Linked DNA regions of Homo sapiens: region 2 is linked to region 1. Evidence: fine-mapped expression QTL. Tissue or cell type: whole blood. Region 1 holds a variant in brackets; the other region holds the start of a gene. All regions are shown on one strand. Distances are between the middles of the regions.

Region 1 (8,257 bases):
TGCCCGCCTCAGCCTCCCAAAGTGCTAGGATTACAGGCATGAGCCACGGCACCCAACCAAAAGTTAATGTTACTTTAACACATTCTGTTACAAGAAACAAGGCTGGGACTATACAAAGAATAAAATTATAAAAATTTTAAAAATCGTCCATGCTTGGCCGGGCGTGGTGGCTCACGCCTGTAATCCCAACACTTTGGGAGGCCAAGGCAGGCGGATCACAAGGTCAGGAGATCGAGACCATTCTGGCTAACACAGTGAAACCCCATCTCTAATGAAAAATACAAAAAATTAGCTAGGCATGGTGGTGGGCGCCTGTAGTCCCAGCTACTTGGGAGGCTGAGGCAGGAGAATGGCGTGAACCCGGGAGGAGGAGCTTGCAGTGAGCCGAGATTGTGCCACTGCACTCCAGCCTGGGTGGCAGAGCGAGACTCCGTCTCACAAAAAAAAAAAAAAAATCATCTAGGCTTGAGCCCAGGAGTTTGAGACCAGCTTGGGCAACATAGTGAGACCCCCATCTCTGTTTTATATATATATATATATATATATATATATATATATATATATATATATATATATATATATACACACACACACACACACACACACACACACACACACACACACACACACGATATATATATATTTAAAATATATATATGTTATATACATATATAAATGTATACATATACATATAATTATACATACATATATGTATATATACTTAAATATACATATATATATATATATATATATATATATATATAAAAATCACTCAGGAGCCCTGGAATGTGTGTGTTTTGGTTAATTTTAGTAGAAAAGGGTATTACCTATGCAAAGCTCTAGCTACCTAGATAACTGAAAATATCTGCACTTATGAGGTAGTTGGCATTTGTCACGGTATCTTGGTCTTCATTTTTCTTTCTGTGGCCCTGGTGAAATGCGTCTGATATCTCAGGAGAAAATGCAATCCAAAGAACGATTGTGGTTGTCTGGTTCATCAGTTGTATACTGTGCGGTGCAATCTGAGAGATTTTCACAAAGCCGAAAACTGCCCAAGTATGACCTCGTGCCTGTGTAGGCCTCTTATAAAAGAGACAATTCCCCAACTCTCAGAGAGTTTCCAGAGGAGGCTAGGAGTGATGATCTCGGGATGGCAGAGATCTAGGAAAGAAAATAAACGTCATTGTTTTTTGACATTTATATATATATACACACACAATTATTATTATTATTTTTGGAGACAGAGTCTCACTCTGTCACTAAGGTTGGAGTGCAGTGGCGCGATCTCAGCTCACTGCAACCTCCACCTCCAGGATTCAAGTGATTCTTGTGCCTCAGCCTCCCAAGTAGCTGGGATTACAGGCGTGAGCCACCACATCTGGCTAATTTTTGTATTTTTAGTAGAGACGGGGTTTCACCATGTTGGCCAGGCTGGTCTTAAACTCTTGACCTCAGGTGATCCGCCCGCCTCGGCCTCCCAAAGTGCTGAGAGTACAGGTGTGAGCTACCGCACCCCACCAACATTTATATTCTTAAATACTTGCCACTGAAGCGCTCATCCAGTAAGTATGCGCCGAATGAATGGAGGGGTTGCTGCACAGCCTCATTCCCTACCCCCATTCAGGATCCCAGGCCTTGCTTTGGCAGGTGAGGAAGCCAAGGTTCAGGGCTTGTCTGGTAGGAATAGAGGAGGCCATTCAGCAGACAGAGCGGTTTCCAGCTCAGCTCTGGAGTCAGGCTGCCTGGACTCTGTGCCTGGCTCTGGCAGTGTCTACTGGGTAGAGTCGATAGAGTAATAGTTCCTATCTCAAAGAGCTATTGGACTAAATTATAGAGAACATGTAAAGTGCTTAGCATGGTGCTGATTAAATTACCCTGATTATTACAAGAATTCAGTAAATGTTAGCTATTATAATCATTTGTCAAGAAGATCCTACCATGAGGCTTGAGCCATCTATAGCTTATCTTTACAACTCTGCCCACTCCCTATTAATATCTCCACTTTATTGTCTAACAATGGGATCAGAGTTCCTAGAAAATGAAAGAGCAAGCTATCAGCTTCTGCCCAATAAAGAAGGAGAAATAGCGGAGCTGGGGAGAAGCAAACAGATCTCATACACAGAACGCCTGGTTGTGCAACTGGCTCAGCTTAGAAATAGATCTGGACTCTCAATGGCCATGCAGAAAGGAAGAAAACAAAGGCGCACATCTTCAGGCTGCTGAGGGAAACTCTATATCCAGAAAAACCTCAAGTACAAGTATGGAACAAAGACAGTTTCAGGCTTTTGAGGTTTCAAAAAATGTGACATTCTAAGAAACAGGGTAAATTATTATAGCAATTTCTCAATAGATATTAAATAGTACTGAGACTGATGAAGTCACTGAATATGATGGGTTGATTTATTCTGCAGACACATGCTGAGTGCTACTATGGGCTGGTTACACACTGGACTAGAGAGGGTAACCAGACTGACACATATTGCTGCCCTCATAGAGCTCATTTACATCCTAGTGAGGACAGATAGATGTAAACAGCTACAGTAGGAAAGTTCTGAGTCAGAAGGTGATGAACGTGATGGAGAAAGAGAAGCCAGGGCCTCTAGCCTCAACTTCCAGGAACTGGAACTACAGAACTACAGGAACTATAGCAGACAGATGAACGAACTACGGCTGGGCGTGGTGGCTCATGCCTGTAATCCCAGCACTTTGGGAGGCTGAGGCGGGCACATCACAAGGTCAGGAGTTCGAGACCAGCCTGGCCAACATGGAGAAACCTCGTCTCTACTAATAAATATAAAAATTAGCCGGGGATGGTGGCGGGCGCCTGTAGTCCCAGCTACTGGGGAGGCTGAGGCAGGAGAATGGCATGAACCCAGAAGGTGGAGCTTGCAGTGAGCCGAGATCGCGCCACTGCACTCCAGCCTGGGCAACAGTGTGAGACTCTGTCTCAAAAAAAATAATAATAATTACCAGCAACTGATGGCTTAAAACAATAGAGGTTTATTCTCTCACAGCTCTAGAGGTCAGATGCTAAAACCAAGGTGTTGGCGGAGGCCACACTCTCTACAGAGACTCTGGGGAAGAATCCATTCTGTGCCTCTTCCAACTTCAGGCGACCATCGGCACTCCTTGACTCGTAGCTGCATAACTCCAGCCTGTGCCTGGGAGATCACACTGCCTCCTCCTCTCTGTGTGTCTGTTCTCCTTCTCTTCCTCTCTCTTACAAGGACACTTGTAATGGCATTTACGACCCACCTCTAAAGTGGGCCCTTCTCTCAAGATCTTTAACTTAATTACATCTTTTGCCATATTAAGGTAATATTCACAGGTTCCTGGGATTAGGAAGTGAATATATCTTTGG[C/T]GGACCACTTTTGTGCCTACCTTAAGGAGCAAGAAAAATGGGACAGTACTAGAGGGAAATGTAGGGTACAGAGAAGTTTTTTGTTTTTGTTTTTTAAGATGGGAAAAGTTGGCGGGGTGCAGTGGCTCATGTCGGTAATCTCAGCACTTTCGGGTAGAGGCAGGAGGATCGCTTGAGCCCAGAAGTTCAAGACCTGCCTGGGCAACATAGAGAGACCTCATCTCTACTTAAAAAAAAAAAAAAACTAGTCTCTTGTGGTGGTGTACACCTGTAGTCCCAGCTACTTGGGAGGCTGAGGAGATTGCTTCAGCCTAGAAGGTTGAGGCTGCAGTGAGCCATGATCATGCCACTGCACTCCAGCCTGAGTGACAGAGTGAGACCCTATTTCAAAAACAACAACAATGACAAAAAAAAAAAAAGTTTGGAGATGGAGTGGTAACCAACTTGGCAGAGTGGAGGCAGCTGGCACTTAAGTGCTTAAAGATAATAGAAACGAAAAGTTAACAGTTCACTCTACTTATCCCCAAAAAAGTTCAGGACATGGAGGGACCAGATAGCTCAGATGGAAGGAAAAAGGCATAGAGCTGAGAACAGAGAAATTATTTAGGAGTCTGTATATAAAGCAGTTAAGCTTACAAATCCCCTCCCCAACCTTTTTTAGCTGGGCACCAACTCCCATAGCACAGCAGAGGGTTTACTCTTTGGGGAAACTGAATCTGAGAAGCACCAACTCAGGGACACCAGGCACAGCTGAAGGTGGAGTGAGCACTGAGCTGAAAACAAGGGACTGGGTAAAAACATATGTACCAAGCGGTGGCTCCACAACCGTCTCCCCTGACCCTGCTGCTGTAACCTCTATAGCAGGGGCCATGCAGATATCCCCCAGACAGATTGGAGAATTCTCTGTAGAAACCAGACGGTCCCTTCAGTGAGATTTACAGATTCTGATATTTGGGTGTACCCAGTAAAATATCCTGCTTGCTTCAGTCGCCACAGAGTGAAGCCCATAGATCAACAAGCCCCAAATTGTGCTTCCAATTGCCTCTGCTTAATGCCTCATTCTTAAATATGGACAGCCGAAGATCAAACATTTGAGGAAAACTTCCAACAATACACACACAAAAAAAATGGAGCGGGGGGAAGCAGGGGAGGGGAACTCAGGGGAAACAATAAGAAAAGCAGAAGAAAACTTAAAAACTGGAAAAATCCTTGGAGAGCTAAGAGAACAGACTCATGAAACAAGAACAGAAATACTATATATAAAAAAAGAAGCACGGCCGGGCTCGGTGGCTCACGCCTGTAATCCCAGCACTTTGGGAGGCCAAGATGGGTGGATCACCTGAGGTCAGGAGTTCAAAACCAGCCTGACCAACATGGTGGAACCCCGTTTCTACTAAAAATACAAAAAATTAGCCGGGTGTGGTGATGCATTCCTGTAATCCCAGCTCATGCAGTGAGCACAGGAGGCTAAGTCAGGAGAATTGCTTGAACCGGGGAGGCGGAGGTTGCAGTGAGCCAAGATCACGCCATTACACTCCAGCCTGGGTGACAGAGCAAGACTCCAGACTCCATCTCAAAAAAAAAAAAAAAAGCAATCAATGAACAAGAGAGTTAAAATGTAAAATTTCAATAAGAAAGAAAGATACAGTTAATAAAGTTGAAAGTGGATCTCATGAAAATAGAGATGAGATTGGTGGTTACTGGAGGCCAGGAAGGGTGGAGGAAATAAAGACATGTTAATGAGTAGAAATGTACAGTTAGATGGAAGAAATGGGACCCAGTGTTCTATAGATCAGTAGGGTGACTGTAGTTAACAATAATCTATTGTACATTTCAAAATCACTAGAAGAGAATGATTCGAATGTTCCTGGCATAAAGAAAAGATAAATATTTAAGATGATGGATATCCCAATTGCCCTGATTTGATCTTTACACATTATATGAATGTATCAAAATATTACAGGTACCCCCAAAATACGTACATCTACTATACATCAATTGTTTTAAAGTTAATGAAATTGCCCAGAGAATACAATAAAAAGAGACGGGCAAAAGGAGAAAAAAAGATAACAGCTATAATTCAAGGTCTAACATCCTCTAGTAAGGCCAGAGAAAATGGGGTGAGGATACAGGTTGAGTTAGGGAGTGGTAGCAAACAGGTAATTTACATAGAAAAAAACACTATCTATAGAATTAAAAGAAAAGAACAAAAAGACTTATAAATAGCAATACTTGGAAGTTAGAAGATAGTGAGGGAATTAGCCAGGCATGGTGGCACATGTCTGTAATCCCAGCTACTTGGGAGGCTGAGACAGGAGAATCGCTTGAGCCTGGGAGGCAGAGGTTGCAGTGAGCCGAGATTGCGCCACTGCACACTCCAACCTGGGCAACAGAGCAAGACTGTCTCAAAAAAAAAAAAGAAAAAAGAAAAAGAAAGAAAGAAAGAAAGAAAAGAAAAGAAAAGAAAAGGAAATAATGAAGGACATACCAACAAACACAATCACCATTATGGCACGTGGCTTCTTATGTTTTTTCTCACTTCTTTCTTATCTCCTCTCTTGCTTTTGTCACTTGGGAGCCCTTCATTCTTCAGGCTCCTCTTTCAGAAATTTTGCCCACTTCAGTCTGCACCTTCTTCCACAACTCTCAAAATCTACCCTTTATCCTGCTGCAATTCTCCATCTCATAGACCCCATTTAGTGTCAGACTAAATCCTTCTAGCCCATCCTCCATCCTTTTCTCAAACATTTCCCTATGAGCTCCCAGTCACACCTTTTCTCCCAATATCCAAGTGTCCTCTGTCAACACATTACCAAGTCTTCTCTTTCTCCTCCATATGTTCCCACTTCCCTCTGAACCAGAGACTCCTCTTTGCTTCCTTTGATCCTGGCCTCCGCCTTCAGCCCCAGAAGCTCTTTTCCTCACTTCCACTCTCTTTTATTTTAGGCTCAGACTCTCTCCTTTCCTTTCTCAACTTTACCCCTTCAGTGTCAATAATGTTCTGTCTGGCTCTAATTTCTCCTCTGACTTTCAGTACTTCTCCTGTCTGCCTCTTTCCTTCTTTGGTGTCAATCCTTCATCTGCCTCATTCACTGGTACCTTCACCTATAATATCTTTTTTTTCCATAGAAACAGATTCATCAGTGATATCTTTCACTTCACTCAAGATGCCCCCCTCAACTCCCACTCCTTTCTCAGTCCCTTGTAGTTCCTCACTCCCTTTGACACTTTCAAAAGGAATTTCCATCTCATCATGAGTAAATGCCATCACTCTTTCATCGCCAGTAACTTCTACCACTTTTTCAATGTTCTTCTCATTTATGCTCCCCATTCTTGAACCCTCCAATTTCTCCCCGCTGGTCCCTAACTTCTCCTCACTAGATCTCAGCTTCTCCGCACTTGACCCCAGCTTCTCTCCACTCAACCTCAGCTTCTCTCTGCTTGATCTCAGCTTCTCTCCACTGGTTCCCAGCTTCTCTCTGCTTGATCTCAGCTTCTCTCCACTCAACCTCAGCTTCTCATCACTTGTTCCCAGCTTCTCTCCACTCAATCTCAGCTTCTCTCTGCTTGATCTTAGCTTCTCTCCACTCAACCTCAGCTTCTCTCTGCTTGATCTTAGCTTCTCTCCACTCAACCTCAGCTTCTCATCACTGGTTCCCAGCTTCTCTCCACTCAACCTCAGCTTCTCTCTGCTTGATCTCAGCTTCTCTCCACTCAACCTCAGCTTCTCTCCACTCAACCTCAGCTTCTCATCACTGGTTCCCAGCTTCTCTCCACTCAACCTCAGCTTCTCTCTGATTGATCTCAGCATCTCTCCACTCAACCTCAGCTTCTCATCACTGGTTCCCAGCTTCTCTCCACTAGTTCCCAGCTTCTCTCCACTCCATCTCAGCTTCTCTCTACTTGATCTCAAATTCTCTCCACTTGATCTCAGCTTTCTGCCACTGGACCTCAGCTTCACTCCACTGGACCCCTGCTTCTCTCCCCTGCACACCAGCTTCTCACTAGTAGACCTCAGCTTCTCTACACTTGATCTCATCTTGTCTACACTAGACCTCAACCCCTTCTCATCCTGTCCCAGTTTATATCCATTGGATCTCAAGTCCTCTCCACTGGTCCCTACCTTCTCCCCAGCAGACCTCAACCTCTCTTCAAACCCAGACCCCTTCATAGGCCCTGCTGTCATCCCTGCACTCTTAGATTTAGCCTTTATTTCGTGTTTGACCTCTTGCTTTCCCCAAATACCCCTTGGGCTGTCTTTCCCCAAATCTGCTGAAGCTTGTGATGCACTTGCTCCACGGTATAGCAGCTTCACATCCATCCTTTCCTGACTCGGGCCTGACTTCCCTTTCAAGACCGTCTTTTCCACATCTTCCAGTCTCCAGTACTCAGACTCCAGCTTCGGCTTTCGAGTGTTTCTAGTCAGGAGCTCCACTCTCTTCCCAATTACCATGAGCCCGTTCCAAGGTCCCCAGGTTTTCTCTCGCAGCATCGGCACCCCCTTGCAGCCCCGCTCCAGTGGCGACCGTTCGCGGACCCCGGCCTCGCTTGGGGCGCCCTGGCCGCGGGACTTGTGGAGCTCCCTAGTCCTCCTAGGCTGCTTACCCCGCCGCTCCCTCCCGTCCAAGAGCGGAAACCTAAACAGACCCCCCTTCTCCACAGACATTGTCCCCTGCCCTCGCCCCTGGTCCACCACCCACATCCCCACCACTGCTTCCCATTCCCTGTCCCCACCCTGCCACCCTCACCCTCTTCCCCTTCCCCTTCCCCTTCCCCACTGCCTGGTGGGCGCCAAACTGGGCGAGTGCGCACGCGCAGGCCGCACGTGGCCGTTGGAAGGAGGGGCCCGGAACGGCGGCACGGGGTTGTTGTGGGGGTCAGTCCCCCGGGGACTGG
Region 2 (8,000 bases), 28 kb after region 1:
GGGGTGTGGGGAGCGAGGGAGCATCTAAGGTGCAGAAAGAATGGCAGCCTGACTCAGGGAGCAGGGGACTTCAAGGACCTGTTTCTCCTCTGCAGGCCAGCACCCTGATTCTCCGGAACACCCTTGTTGCCCTAAAGGGGGAGCCTTAGAGTAGCCAGAGCTCAGCCAGACCCTAATCTGGGATCTCCAGTGACCAGGGTATCCCAGACCCCTCTCTCCGGCAAGATGTCTCCTTCCCTAGCAGTGCCACTAGCCACACCCTCACTCTGCCCCACATCCTCTCAGGGAAAGCCCAAACCCCCTATCACCACCACCACAGGTGCCAGGCCCTGCAAGACACAGGGCAGCATGGGCATCATAACTGGCCACAGTCAGCAGAGCCCCAGGGACCCTGACACCTCTCCCCAGGAAGCTGAGGAACAGCCTCTACCCTCACCCATAGCCCTGAAGGAATCATAGCTCACTTGATCCCGGCCTGTTCTCCTTCGCAAATAAAAACCCTGGTTTTGTAGCAAGGAGGCCTGTTGTCCTTACTTCCCTTCCCACAGCTCAAAGGTCCACCAGGCACACTTTCTGCCAAGGCAGTATGATCAGATCCTGGAGACACCAAGGAGGGCACCCCTGCAGCATCCTCAGCCCTCTCTCCAGTGACAGCAGGCTCCCTGTGGGAAGGCGCGACACCCAGAAGCTGGGACCTAGGAACCCCAGAAGTCTTCCAGGTTTGCCCCTACCCCCATAAACCCTAGCACAAAAATGAATCCCAAGTTCTCCACACCTATTTCCTAACCAGAAAAGGGATCTAGCCCTTCCTCCCAGAACCGCTCACAAGTTCCCAGGAGTTATGGAGCCAACTGTAACACCAGGAGGACTCTTCCTCAGTTCAGTTGATAAGGGAAATATAGATGCCACATTACCACTCCCAGTTCACCTCACCCTAGGGCCAGATTTCTTGTATGTCTTTGCCTGCTGGGCAGGAAAAAGCCCAAAGTACAGGCTGGAAACAGCCCTTGACAATGCTGGCAAAAGGCTCAGGGTACCGGCAACACCCTTTTGGTTAAACACAGGGAGGCAGTGCTCAAGACACCGGGGTCTGAAGTCCCGGGCTCCACCTGGCTGGCCCCACCCTGAATGCACTCCAGCCACATCTAGAGGAGGTCAAAGGCTCAACTTGGCCTGACTCACAGCAGCCACTGAACCTGACCCTCATAAACTTGAGTCAGCCATCCAGGGAAGACAGCAGACCAAACAGAACCTTTGAGCTACCTCTGACTTGCCTATCAGCCCACACCTAGAAAGGGACAGAACAGAATATCAGATGGACCTCACTGTCCATCCAGGCAAGGCTACAGAGCACCCAGTTCAGGCATAAATCACTTCCGCTGGAAGACCCCTGTAGCCAGCACCCACTCCTTAAACAGCCAGTCCAGTGTCAATCACAGCACCAACAGAATAATGGTGACCATCAGAAAGGCGTCTCAGCCAGTCATTGGAGCCAGATAAGGGTGTGCAGGGGCTGGTTGGGTGTGGAGTACAGAGGAGAGAGATAGCACCATTATCCCAGTGCACCCCCAATCCTGAAGTCTCCTGTGTCCCAACCTTGAAAAACACATCCCATTAATGAGCCTTTTTATTATTGTCTTTTTTTTTTTTAATCGAAGGTCCCTTACTGGTCCTGCTTCCATGAGTAGCCGTGACCAGGGGAAAAGGGAGAGGAACCAGCCGGCACAGGGAGGGGTCATCTCCACAACATTCCATTTATACACAGAACTAAACAGACAAGCACAGAGTCACTATTGCGGTTAGAAGTTGGCAGCATGGGAAGGGGGAGGACCAGGTGGGGAATGGGGATGTTGTTAAAAAAAATACAGGCTCCCCCACAACTGGGGTGCCTGGGGGGAACTTGGTCTGCTTCAGCCCAAGAGGAATCAAAAGATCAAAAGCAGTTTGGGAAGGCCAGAACCGTCAAGGGATGGAGGGAGAAGGAAAATCCAGGGGGTGGGGGGTCTGTTTGGCAACTGGGGTGAAGGGATTGCCCTCCCCCTGCTGGGATCCCCCCAGCCCCTCCGGTCTGGCAGGAAGGGGGCAGCCTGCAACCCCCAAGGGCAGGTGTGGGGCTGCCAGATGCTCCAGGCAGGGGGCCAGAAGGGGCTCACAAAGGCTTGCCCTCCAGGGAGATGACGGCACTGCCCCCCAGCTTCTCTGCCAGGGTGCAGCGGTCCTTGACCTCCTCGTAGCAGTTTGCTTGCAATTCATGCTTGATCCCTATAAAGAAGAAAGGGGAGCATCTGTGAGCAGGAAGCACTGGGGTGGGGGTAGTTTCTGTGGCTGGGAAGGAGCCAATCAAAGCAGATGGAAGGAACAAGCAGGCAGCGAAGACAAGGGGGCAGACCCCCTCTGCGTGCCATTCACCCTGCCCTGCAGCCAAGGCCAGAGCAGAAGGGCACTCAGCACCAATGCTGGCCCTTACCTGTCAGCTTCTTCTTGATGGCGTCCTTGGAGCTGGCATAAATCATTTTGCTCTTAAGGGGCGCAGACTCGGGGGCCCTGGACAGAAACACGCGTCAGGCAACTCCCAGCAACAGCAAAGCCACAGGTGACTTTGAGAAACCCTTGGGCTGGCAGTGAGGAGTCTTTTGTTACAACCCCCTCCCCCTCCAAACCCACACATCTGGGTTGACCAGGAGCCACAGAAGTTCCCATCATGAGAAAGGGGGCAGGTGACAGGAAGAAGTGCCAGAATGAGCTCACCAGAAGATAAACACCAGATCCTCCTTCTTGCTCTCCTTGGTCTCATAGGTTGCATCATAGAGGGCATAGCGGCAGTCCTTATCTGGCAGCATCTTGACAAAGGTGGCGTAGGGGTCGTCGACAGTCTGGCCCACATCGCCCACCAGGATCTCCTTGCCCTCCTCCAGGATGATGTTCTTCTTGTCCTCACTCAGGCAGAAGAGCACCGCCTTCTTGCGCTTCTTCACCTCCTCTGGCGTTGAAGACTTACGCACCTTCATGTCGTTGAACACCTTGATGACACCATCAGAGACAGCCACACCGGAGGCCTAGGAGACATGCCACGTATACGTCAAGAAAAGGATTCTAGGGAACTGCCCCTTGTTTTTTCAGAAGATCTCAGTCCACGTCCCGAGTGGTCACTAGTGCCCTTCCCAAGGCAAGTCACTAGTTTTCCCACCCAAGTCACTGTCAAAGAACCAGATGGGACACAACCTCAGAATGGCAGCCATGGCCTCTGATCACCTAGTTCAACAACCCCTTCCCTCATTTTACAGGATAGAAATGCAAAACTCGTGAAAAGCAGAACCTTGACCAAAATGTGAACCCAGAATTAAAAGATCCACCGGCTACTGACTCATTTGCTACTCACAGTACTTGCTCTCAGCCTTTGGATAAAACTGGTGATTTAGAACTTCGGATATGGAGGACCCAAACACCTGAGCCAAGACTCCTCTTCAGAAAGAGCCAAGACCCCACAATGCTAGATGGGACCCCAAGGACACCGAACAGTTACAACAAACCCACCAGAACTGCTTAATACAGTTACTACACAAACGACCCCTGTTCCCAGCTAGGCTCTTTCCCAACCAAGACAAGAATTGCAACCCCCATTAAGGACCCTGCCCGACAACTCCCTTCTTCCGGGAATGGTGCTAGGCCCCAGAAGTCGCTGATAAAAATTAACATGCCAAACTCAAGTGCCCAGAGGCCTCGAGGTCTTTAAACTCTTCCTACTCTGCGTCGTGCTTCGGGGTGCCCGAGCCAGGAGAGGGAGGGGCAATCCAAGGTAAATCTGGTCCCCCAAACTCCCCGGAACTGCAGAAGAAGCCGGCCACGTGACTCGGCCGCATCCGGAGTGGGCGGGGACAGGAGATCGGCTGGGCCCGGCCCCCTCACCAATGCAGAAACGCGTATCCGAGAGGCAGCAGCATCTCCAGGTCCCTAACCCTGTGGAATCGCCCTAAAACAACGGGTGTATCAGACCCATCTCCTGCAGGCAGGAGCCTGGGCAAGCTACATAACCTTCGGTTTTCTCAGCCCTCGGGCCGTATACAGGGGGCGGGGTGGTTTCCGGGCGGTGCCCGCCTGGGTCACTTCCCTAAACTCGGCTCCACCCTCACTCAGGCCCATCCGGGAAGGCCTCGCTGGCCCAGGGCTTCGGCACCGGCGGCCGGGCCTGAGCGTGCGCGCACGCGCCGACAGACAGCGCCGTTCCAGCCCTCGCCCGATGCACGGGTGAGAACGCAGCTCGTTAGATGCGCTCCCGAACGGGCCGCGGTCTCTGCGATGCCCCCTCCAAGCCTTGCGGTGCAAGGCCTTAATCGCAGGCACCCACGCCCCAACCGGGACCCCGTCTTCCCAGCATCACCCCTCGCCGCGCCAGCACCCGCCCCTCCCGGGCGCAGGCATCCCTGCCACCTGCTCCCGAGACGGACCCGGCTGCCGAGGGAGGGTGACGCGCAGACAGGAACAGCCTTGGGTGGGGCGCGCGCGCCGAGACCTCTCGCGCGCTTTTTCCTCGCCGCCCCCGGGCCGGGTTTGGACGCCGCATGCTCCAGTCGAGAGCGCGCCCCTAAGAAGAAAGGCGCGACGCCGGCCGTTCCGCGAGGGGCGCCCCAGCGCGCGCCCCGAACCCCTCCCCCCGCGGCCGGTGTCCGCGCGGGCGCACCAGCGGGTGGGGGAGGGGAGCCCAGGCGGAGCGCGAGCGACGTCCAGACCGGCCCTCCCCGGCGCCCACGGGCGCGCACGCGCATTCCGGCACCGCCCGCCCCTTCGTGCGAGACCCTCATCCCGCCCGGGGCGCTGGGGGAGGGGGTGCGGACGTCGCTCCCCAGTCGCTTCCCGCGCGCAGGCGACCGACCCGCAGCCGCCTCCCTCAGGCGCCGTGGCCTGCCGCTCACCATGTTTCCGGAAACGAAAAGGAGAGGGCACCGAGAGCCGCAGAAGACGAGAGCGCTGCAGCCGCTGCCGGGACCCGACTGAACGCGGCCTCTCCCGGCCCCTTCCGTTTAGTAGGAGCCGCACAATGAGGGGTGGGGCGGGCTTCCGGCGCTCCCACCGCGAGCCGACGGGAAATGGAGTCCGCTGGCCCTGCGCCGCCGCCTCGCTCGCTGGGTAACGGAGTCTTCCCGCCGGCCGGCTCCGAGCTGCAGTGCATGTAGGGAAATGTAGGCCCAGGTCCTGGGCGGCACCGCAGCGCGCAGCGCGAGCCCATTGGTCCAATTTCCCAGGAACCGCTCTGAGCCCGGCGAGGCGGCGCTCAGTAAAATGACCCGAAAACGATCCCCGACTAAGCGGCTCTTTATCCCACAGCAAAACGGCTTTCTTAAGACCCATCTGGTATTATCTGGATCCCTTGGCCTGAAATTTTTGAGTGAGGTTAGGGTTTTGCATTTCTGAATCGAAGCAACTATTGATTAGCCTGGAATCCCGACCTAAAGCAAAGGAAATCACAAGTATGAAGGCGTCGTCAGTCGGATAAACACTAGTACTCTGCATGTGTAAAGCCACTCTCGTCTCCTGAAAAAAGGCCATGTCCAACGTCAGTAAAACAAGAATAGGAGGAAAAGGCACAGGGGAAAGGTACAAGGAAATCTCTGAGAGCTTTGTTCTTGTTTAAAGATGTTTGGCAAAGTCATGAGGCGTTAAAGGGTAAAGACGAGGGTTTGTGCATTCAATTCAAGGCTTCTTTACATGCCTTTACGTGCCAATGAGAAGAAATAGATATTAAACCAGACTTGAACCCAGCTCTCGAGTTGATAGCCAGGTACATGGTTATTCTAACATCCGCAAAACTGAGACAAGTTCTGTGGTAGTATATGCCTTAAAAAAAAAAAGAAACGAGCGGGGGACTCCGGGATGATTTTGTTGTTCTAGAACAGTGACCACAGCCTCACACTCTGCAGGAAAAGACTGGGTCGCAAACAAGTCAGAGGCAAACCCAGAAAGGGAACTGGGGGCCCTAATCCTATAAACGGAATTAAGGGTGTAAACGGAGAGCGATGCCTGGGAGTGGGGTACCTTGCAGAGCATACCGGGGGTTGTAGTCGGGGACATTCCACAGCACCGCCCCCGCCCGGACTCCCGGCGCTCCAGGTGGAGACAGCAGCTTGACCCCGCCTCCCGCGAGCGACCCTACATGAATATGAGGCTAGCGCCCCCTTTTCTGAGCCTTAGAGTTTCCAAGAGCAACGGGGAGAGAGAGGGGGGCTTCGCAGTTACCCTGGAGACGCGCTCTCGCCCGCCCCCAGCCGCGGGATGCCCTAGATGTCCTTATTAGGACAAGAGACTCGAGGGGGCGGGGCCAGCCCGACAGCCGGCTTGAGGCTCCTTATAAGGCCGCGGCGGGCGGGAGGCGGGAGCCGGAGCCCATTGGTCCAATTTAGCTTGGCTGGGGCTACTGCGCCGTGGGCTAGGCACAGTCCTGAGGGGCGGGACTGGAGCTCTGGCGCCCACCTCTCCCTTCCTCGCAGGCTGGAGACCTGCGTGTTGCGACTTCCGGCATAGCAGCTAGAGGCCGGGTGCTGCTTCAAACCCTGGCGGGTCGCCTGTGTCCAACTCAGCTATACGTGTCTTTCAGGCTTCTCAGGTTGAAGCCCTTTGTAGGGTTTCCATCTTCAACCTCCCTGAGGGTCTCCCACTTCCGATTAGCCACAAAAATGACGAAGTGTTCTCCCCTCTACCTGTGTCTGGGCTTCTTAACCCGCAGCCTGCTCCTCCGCTCCCAAACCCAACCGCGTGCCCATCTCAGGCCTCCCCAACTGCCAGGATGCCCAAGCACCTCTTACTTACAGTCCTCCTTCCTCTAGGCCTCTGACCCCCGACATTCCGAGTTCTATTTTGGGCCTTCTCGGCACGTCCCCGACTTCCTCTCCACCACACACTCTTTGCCCTGTATCCCGGGGATGAGGATCACCATTTCCTCCAAGGGTCCTGCAGCTCCTCCTGCCTTACCTTTGTGTCCTCATCCCCGGCACCCATTTCTGGGTGTCCCTCCCACCAATACGTTTGCACCCGTTTGTCTCCTAGCCCCCGCCTCTCCTGGACTCTTTTCAAGACCAGTCTCCATCTCCAGCCTCCTTCAAGCTTGAGGCTGAAGCTGACAATCTTAAGAGACCTTAGAGCCGCCAAGCTCAGGTTAGTCCGTTAAGCGCCGCCCAGCCAGTCCTCCCCGTCACAGGGGGCGCTGTCCGCCTTCCTCTCGCCTACACAAAGACCCCGCTCTCGAATCTGGGGTGACAGGAAGGAGCCGGTCCAGGCTCCGGGGGCTGGGAAAGGGCGCGTCTCAAAGGCTGGCTGGAGTGGAGCCAAGGGAAAAGATCGTTAGAGACAGCGCCCCTGACCAACCACTTAGAGCAGCGCAGGGGTGGGAGGGCGGCCGCAGGCTCTCCTCTCGTTAGTGCCCCCTGTGTTTGGGGCCCCGTGATCTCAACGGTCCTGCCCTCGGTCTCCCTCTTCCCCCGCCCCGCCCTGGGCCAGGTGTTCGAATCCCGACTCCAGAACTGGCGGCGTCCCAGTCCCGCGGGCGTGGAGCGCCGGAGGACCCGCCCTCGGGCTCATGGCGGCCCCGGTCCGCCTGGGCCGGAAGCGCCCGCTGCCTGCCTGTCCCAACCCGCTCTTCGTTCGCTGGCTGACCGAGTGGCGGGACGAGGCGACCCGCAGCAGGCGCCGCACGCGCTTCGTATTTCAGAAGGTGGGTCCTGGCGTGGCCCGATGGGAAAAGCTGCTGGCCAGGTCAGGCCTGCCCTGACCAGGTACCCTACCCCTGCCCGGCCAGGCGCTGCGTTCCCTCCGACGGTACCCACTGCCGCTGCGCAGCGGGAAGGAAGCTAAGATCCTACAGCACTTCGGAGACGGGCTCTGCCGGATGCTGGACGAGCGGCTGCAGCGGCACCGAACATCGGGCGGTGAGCGCCTCGGAAAGGGGTCGGTGATCCCCCACCTCCCCCAGGTGGAGCCTCCGTACTCTCCTGGGAGCCCTTGGCTTTTAA

Evidence for each region. PIP is the estimated chance that this variant, and not a neighbour inherited with it, causes the effect.
Region 2: CFL1 starts here. The variant in region 1 is fine-mapped to the expression of CFL1 in whole blood (TOPMed, PIP above 0.99).

What each region holds. Positions count from the first base shown.
Region 1 is chr11:65,825,449-65,833,705 of GRCh38, forward strand. It overlaps LOC124902693, which reads right to left. Exons shown (of 7, transcript XM_047427980.1): 1 at 5,850-8,257; 2 at 828-1,161. The coding sequence starts at 8,063. The coding sequence ends at 6,447. Among named protein-coding and RNA genes, the nearest start is that of SNX32, 4.4 kb to the right of the region's middle. RefSeq lists silencers at 2,410-2,704, 8,067-8,196. The variant C/T (reference allele first, on the strand shown) is at 3,362.
Region 2 is chr11:65,853,187-65,861,186 of GRCh38, forward strand. CFL1 (cofilin 1) reads right to left here and starts at 4,994. Exons shown (of 4, transcript NM_005507.3): 1 at 4,911-4,994; 2 at 2,749-3,056; 3 at 2,468-2,544; 4 at 1,487-2,262. The coding sequence starts at 4,913. The coding sequence ends at 2,150. SNX32 (sorting nexin 32) reads left to right here. Exons shown (of 13, transcript NM_152760.3): 13 at 96-515. The coding sequence ends at 149. It overlaps MUS81 (MUS81 structure-specific endonuclease subunit), which reads left to right and starts at 7,247. Exons shown (of 16, transcript NM_025128.5): 1 at 7,247-7,702; 2 at 7,787-7,916. The coding sequence starts at 7,568. RefSeq lists silencers at 4,560-4,959, 6,370-6,449, 7,500-7,659, 7,830-7,919 and enhancers at 4,566-5,106, 5,040-5,089, 5,480-5,549, 6,110-6,199, 6,720-6,769 and 2 more.